Regions from separate parts of the Homo sapiens genome. Here region 2 is linked to region 1. The links come from fine-mapping of genetic effects on plasma protein levels. A gene starts in region 1. The other region holds a variant in brackets. All regions are shown on one strand. Distances are between the middles of the regions.

Region 1 (2,914 bases):
TACCTGACTTAAATACTAAGTGCCTTAAGGTGCCCACATGATATTGTTAATATAGTAAAGTCTTAGCACCCCTGAATTTGACCTTATTGGTTTTCAGCTTTCGGGGAGGGACAAAAATTGCTCCTTGGCAGGTCTTAAGTTATAATCCTGCTTAACTAAGGCTTTGAATGCCGTGTGCGCAAGCATGCTCTCTGGGAGCGCATCCTCAGGTGAGTGTCCCAGACCGCGACCCACAATCCACATGCTCTCCAAATTTTACCGTACGGGTCAACCTTTTTTTCTGTACAGGGCCAGAGAGTAAATACTTCAGTCTTTGCAGACCAGACTGTGTGGCAACCACTTAACCCCGTTGTTCTAACGTGGGAAAGCAGCCATGGGCAATACGTAAAGGAATGAGCGTGGTGGTGTGCCAGTAAAACTTTATTCACGAACAATGAAATGTGAGCGTCATGCTTTTCCACAAGTCATGAAAGAGTACATTTCATATTTACTTTGAAAATGCAAAAATAGAACATCACACACCAGGGCCTGCCGTGGGGTGGGGGGAGGGGGGAGGGATAGCATTAGGAGATATACCTAATGTAAATGACAAGTTATGGGTGCAGCACACCAATATGGCACATGGATACATATGTAACAAACCTGCACGCTGTGCACATGTACCCTAGAACTTAAAGTATAATAATTAAAAAAAAAGGAAGAAAATGTAAAAATCATTCCTAGCTGGCCAGCAGCTGTCACACGACCCCTGCACGGTCACACGCCCAATGGCTGGGGAAGGATCGGGTGGGCAGAGGAAGGCCTCCGGTGAGGTGAGGGGGTTCCACCCGCGCCCACGGCCCGCAGGCGCTTCCCGTCTCATCTGGGCCGCGCCGCCTCAGTTGCTGCGTTCCCTGACCAGGAGAGGAGAGGGACACCCCTCGGCGTCGAGGCCAGGACCCCGGACAGTGGGGGAGGGAGGCATGTAGGACCAGGGAGAAGGAAGGGCCAGGCTTCGAGGTCGCGGAGCTCGGGAAGTTCCCCCAGGGTGTCCCCGGTCCGCTGCCTCCTCAGGCCCGTCACTCACTCGGATAAGCCGGCACAGACGAAGGCCATAGCAAAAGCGCAACTAGAAGGACTAAGGGCTTCATAGGCGTCGTCCGTAGCACTCTGCCATGCGACCGGAACGTCCTGGGGCCACCAGGCTGGGAACCTCAAGGCCGAAAGGGAAGGTGTCAGCGGAGTACCGTCCTGCCTCAGGCCCTGGGACACCCAGCAACGGTTGTCCCCAGCGCGCAAGCGCAGCGGCATGGGGGAGGGGAGAGCGAGCGGCCAAGGCCCGCCCCTCCTGGGACCGCGTGCAGGGGGCGGGGGATCGCGCGCGCCCCGCCCCGCCCCTTCCTAGTGCGCATGCTCGCTCCGCCTTCGTAGGTCCGCGCCTGGTGTGGGCTGGGAACGCCTCGACGCCCGGCTACTGCGTGCGGGGTGCTGCCTCGGGGCGTGCGGGGCTCGGCCCATCCTGCGCGGTAGGGATACCGCCGTGGTTTAAACGCGGTCCCTGTGAGGAAGGAACTGTAATGGGAGAGGCAGATAACCTGGCAATTACCACAGCGTGAAAGGGGGCTGTAGTGGGGGAAGCGCTAGGTACTGTTGTGCACAGTGGAAACCCACCCCCGGAAGCGGGTGGGGAGCTTGGCTAAGTGGAGGACAGCTTGGAGCACCCCAAGAACTGAGCATAGTTCCGGCGAGTTGCATTGTGGGGCTTGGGAGGGCAGTTGTTGGAGGACAGGGAGGAGAGGTAGGCAAGGGCATTAAAAACGCCCTAAGGGGCTTGGGTGTTTTTGTTTTTCAAAAGATCACATTCCATTTCTTTGACCTTCTTAAAAAGATAGGGGTAGGGATGAGGGAGAGTACGACTATGAAAGGATAGCATGAGGTTGTTTTGGGGACTAATAGATGGCAGTGGCCACAAGAATCTATACATGTGTTAAAATTCACAGAAGGCCGGGCACGGTGGCTCACTCCTGTAATCCCAGCACTTTGGGAGGCCGAGGTGGGCGGACCACCTGAGGTCAGGAGTTCGAGACCAGCCTGACCAACATAGTGAAACTTCGTGGCTACTAAAAATACAAAATTAGCCAGGCGTGGGTGGTGGCACACGCCTGTAGTCCCAGCTACTTGGGAGACTGAGGCAGGAGAATCACTTGAACCCGGGAAGCAGAGGTTGCAGTGAGCCGAGATCGTGCCACTGCACTCCAGCCTGGGCGACAGAGCAAGACTCCACCTCAAAAAAATAAATAAAAATAAAAATTCGCAGAACTGCACATCCCAAAGAATCTGTTTTTCTGTATGGTTATTTTTAAAAATTCACGTACACTCATCTCTGCCTCAGGAAGCAAGGGGCTTGGATTTTAGTCTGAGGCACCAGTACTAGAGTACTGCTAGGTTTTGAGCTGGGAACGGTTGTGATTAGATTTGTATTCCAGAAAACTCACTCTTCCTGTAGCATGAAGAATGGACTGGAGGGAAGCAAGACTAGAGGCGCCGGCGGAAACTGAGACTGCGCACGGCGCTTGCGGGCCAGCCCGAGTTCCGGGTGGGCGTGGGCTCGGCGGGCTCGGTGGGCCCGGCACTCAGCGCGGCCGGCCGTCCCCGCTGGCCACGGGCAGTTGGGGGGAGCTTAGCACCTGGGCCAGGAGCTGCTGTGCTCGATTTCTCGCCAGGCCTTAGCTGCCTCCCCGCAGGGCAGGGCTCGGGACCTGCAGCCTGCCATGCCTGAGCCTCCCTGAGGAGCGCCGCTCCCTGCTCCACGGCGCCCAGTCCCATCGACCGCCCAAGGGCTGAGGAGTGCGGGCGCAGGGCCGGGGACTGGCAGGCAGCTCCACCTGCGCCTGGGTGTGGGATCCACTGGGTGAAGCCAGCTGGGCTCCTGAGT
Region 2 (2,914 bases), 24 kb after region 1:
ATTCTCTGCAGAATTCTCCACTCAGCAACCATCATACCTCATCATACAACACCACTTGTTTATGATTAGCTTCCATATGATCACAGAATAGCCTCACATTTAACACATAATCCTTTATGTAACTCACAATTTTAACTATGCTGCTAAGACACTATTGGTTCAGCTGGTTTTTTTGTTTGTTTGTTTGATAGCAAGACTTTCTCAATGAAGGAACAGCATGTTGGTTTATATTCTGGCCCAGCTCTTTTCTCTGGATTAACTACTCCAGAATGCTTACCTGTCATTACATCTGTGCATCAAAAATACTTCTACCCCTAATCTCCAAACCACATAGACAGTGTAATCTATCATCATTTTATACAGTTCTGAGTTCTGTTTATGGTAATGAAGTTGGAAAAAAAAATTCTACTTTCATATTACCATCATGCTCAAATAACACATATACTAAAAGAATTGCTTTGTTAGCGTTACCTGTGCATCAGGTTTCATTAAAAAATAGTTTGCTGGCTTTATTTGTACCATAAATTGGTCTTCCACATAATTAGATAGTTTTAAAATACATTAATCTATAGTTTCATTGGAAAACAGTCTTCACAGTATCTTCTTTGCTCAAGATTCCCCCATCATTTCCAAGCAAACATTTTTTATGAAGTTTTTTGCTAATGTCACCACAATTTAATTTTTTGTCCTAGTCATGCAAAGTGCTACTTGATAAGAAGCCTGAAAAGTACTACTCACTCTTCATATATGAAATATTGAACATCTTCTTCCATTAACTTTTTAATTCAATATTCCTTCTTTCAAACAATTCTTTTCATTGTGAATGTGTGTCTTTATGAGTTGCGTATGCATGTTGCCTATAGTTTGACGGTGAATTGCTTACATTAGCCAGTATATCTCTGCAAATAACACATTCAAATTTTAGTGCTTCTCAATTAATTAGAGCAGTGCAACTGAACTCAGTATGTAAAGGATTATACTTCTGAGTCAATCTAGCAGAAACTCTTTTGGTTGTCATGTCTTCAAAATTACTTTCATCGTTATTATTTGATTTACTACTCGTGCTACATTTAGAAAAGGTATGTATTTTCTAGATTTTTAAAAATTCCAATGAAAGTTAATTCTAGTAAATTATGGCTAAAAAGAAATGACACAAATTTTACTGCCCTAAATTGACTAATAATGTTATATTATAAATTAAATAGTAGACTTGATTAAAAATTAGGCTGATTATAAAAACAAGTTATCAAAATGCTTACTTTTTTCAGATTTTTATGTATTTTTGCATCACAGTTAACCACCTAACCTTAAACTATCACACAATGCAATTTGGTCCTACTGTTCATGAAAACATGAACCTTGCCCATTCTGAGTTGAAAAGATATAAGAAGAGTCTAATTATGTCTAAAGGAGTCAAGCAGGCCCAGGGAGTGGAGGGAGATGGGGACAGCGGGAAGACAGCTCCAGCTTCTCCTTGAGTGGCTGACCTGAGGCTGGAGAACTCTCTGAATGTTGGAAATTGGGCCACTCCCAACACAGAACCTGTGAATAGCATGGCTTTCCCAGAAGCCTGGATGAAATGTCCACTGATTTAATAACAAAATTGTTTTTGCA[A/G]AAGTAAGGACTGCCACTTTAAAGAAACACACTGATTAAATAAAAATGAATACATCAAATTTCAGAAATGCTAATACCTGAAAAGCCATACTTCTTAGAATCTAGGAAATGCCATGAGGATATTTTACTAAGTCTGTGCCTGCTTTTTCTAAGTGTGTGTGTGTATGTGTGTGTGTAAGAGGCTGTAGCTTCTCTCATTGGCAGGGCTGTTGTGCAAAAAGTGCTCACTGCTAAAGACCTGGAATACAGGCATCAAGGAAGTGGAGGAGTGGGGTCTCCTGAGCCATGGATGCTAACATTCCTTTCACATGCCCAGATTTTACTTTCCCATCTGTGACACAATGTCATAAACAGTATGTGCTGCCTAGCATTTTTTTTCAAGTCTTCTACTGACCTAGAACAAAGCAAAAATATGTTGATGCACTTGGGAAGCTATAACTCCATTGGTAAGGGAAAAGTCTTTGAAGTTCTACATGTGTGTTTTAAGACTAAAGTTTGCCCTATAAGACCCCACATCCTCTGGGGACAACAGTGGCTTTCTGGGTTGCTGTGAATTAAGGTATCTGGGTACTTCCCAAAATCTGGGTACTTCTCTTTTCTCACCACACAGTTAGCTGGTTAATTGTTTATTCCATTAGAAATGAACTGGAGTTGGACCCTGAGTACATACTTGTGGCATTTTAGTTATTTGTTCCTCAAGGGTATCCAGCTTCCTCTTTTTTCAAAGGGCTCTTGGTCTGTGAACCGGGTCAGAATTAGACAAAAGGAGGCTTTAGTCCTTGTTTGTAATGTTGTTATACAAATCAAGGAGAGCCTCAAGAGGCTAACCATTTTTGATCCATCAGTGTGGTTATAGATAACGAAGGTACATCCAAAATATGGAAAATTAGTTTAAAAGAAGTACGTATTCCGGCCGGGTGTGGTGGCTCACACCTGTAATCTCAGCACTTTGGGAGGCCGAAGCAGGCGGATCACTTGAGGTCAGGAATTCAAGACCAGCCTGGCCAACATGGTGAAACCCTGTTCTACCGAAAATACAAAAATTAGCTGGGCCTGGTGGCGGGCACTTGTAGTCCCAGCTACTTGAGAGGCTGAGGCATGAGAATTGCTTGAACCCAGGTGGCGGAGGTTGCAGTGAGCTATTGAGATCACGCCACTGCAGTCCAGCCTGGGCGACAGAGTGAGACTCAGTCTCAAAAAAAAAAACATGTATGGAGACATCAATATATATGTAGATGCATATAGATACCTAGGTATATATTTTATAGACAGATGGAGATCATATATATACATACAGATA

Direction of the effects. Alleles are on the strand shown, and positions count from the first base shown. The strength of an association depends on the size of the effect and on how common the allele is.
In carriers of allele A in region 2, the plasma level of the protein whose gene starts at base 1,259 in region 1 tends to be lower than with G alone (strong association).

Evidence for each region. PIP is the posterior inclusion probability: the model's chance that the variant is causal. The UK Biobank Pharma Proteomics Project read protein levels with antibody pairs (Olink). The fine-mapping took linkage between variants from a reference panel, not from the people measured, so its PIPs are less certain.
Region 2: its variant is fine-mapped to the plasma level of the SPESP1 protein (UK Biobank, PIP 0.97).

Annotation. Positions count from the first base shown.
Region 1 is chr15:68,928,870-68,931,783 of GRCh38, reverse strand. It overlaps SPESP1 (sperm equatorial segment protein 1), which reads right to left and starts at 1,259. Exons shown (of 2, transcript NM_145658.4): 1 at 1,067-1,259. The coding sequence starts at 1,130. SPESP1-NOX5 (SPESP1-NOX5 readthrough) reads right to left here and starts at 1,259. Exons shown (of 17, transcript NR_033672.2): 1 at 1,067-1,259.
Region 2 is chr15:68,904,747-68,907,660 of GRCh38, reverse strand. No RefSeq gene overlaps it. Among named protein-coding and RNA genes, the nearest start is that of SPESP1, 24 kb to the left of the region's middle. The variant A/G (reference allele first, on the strand shown) is at 1,615.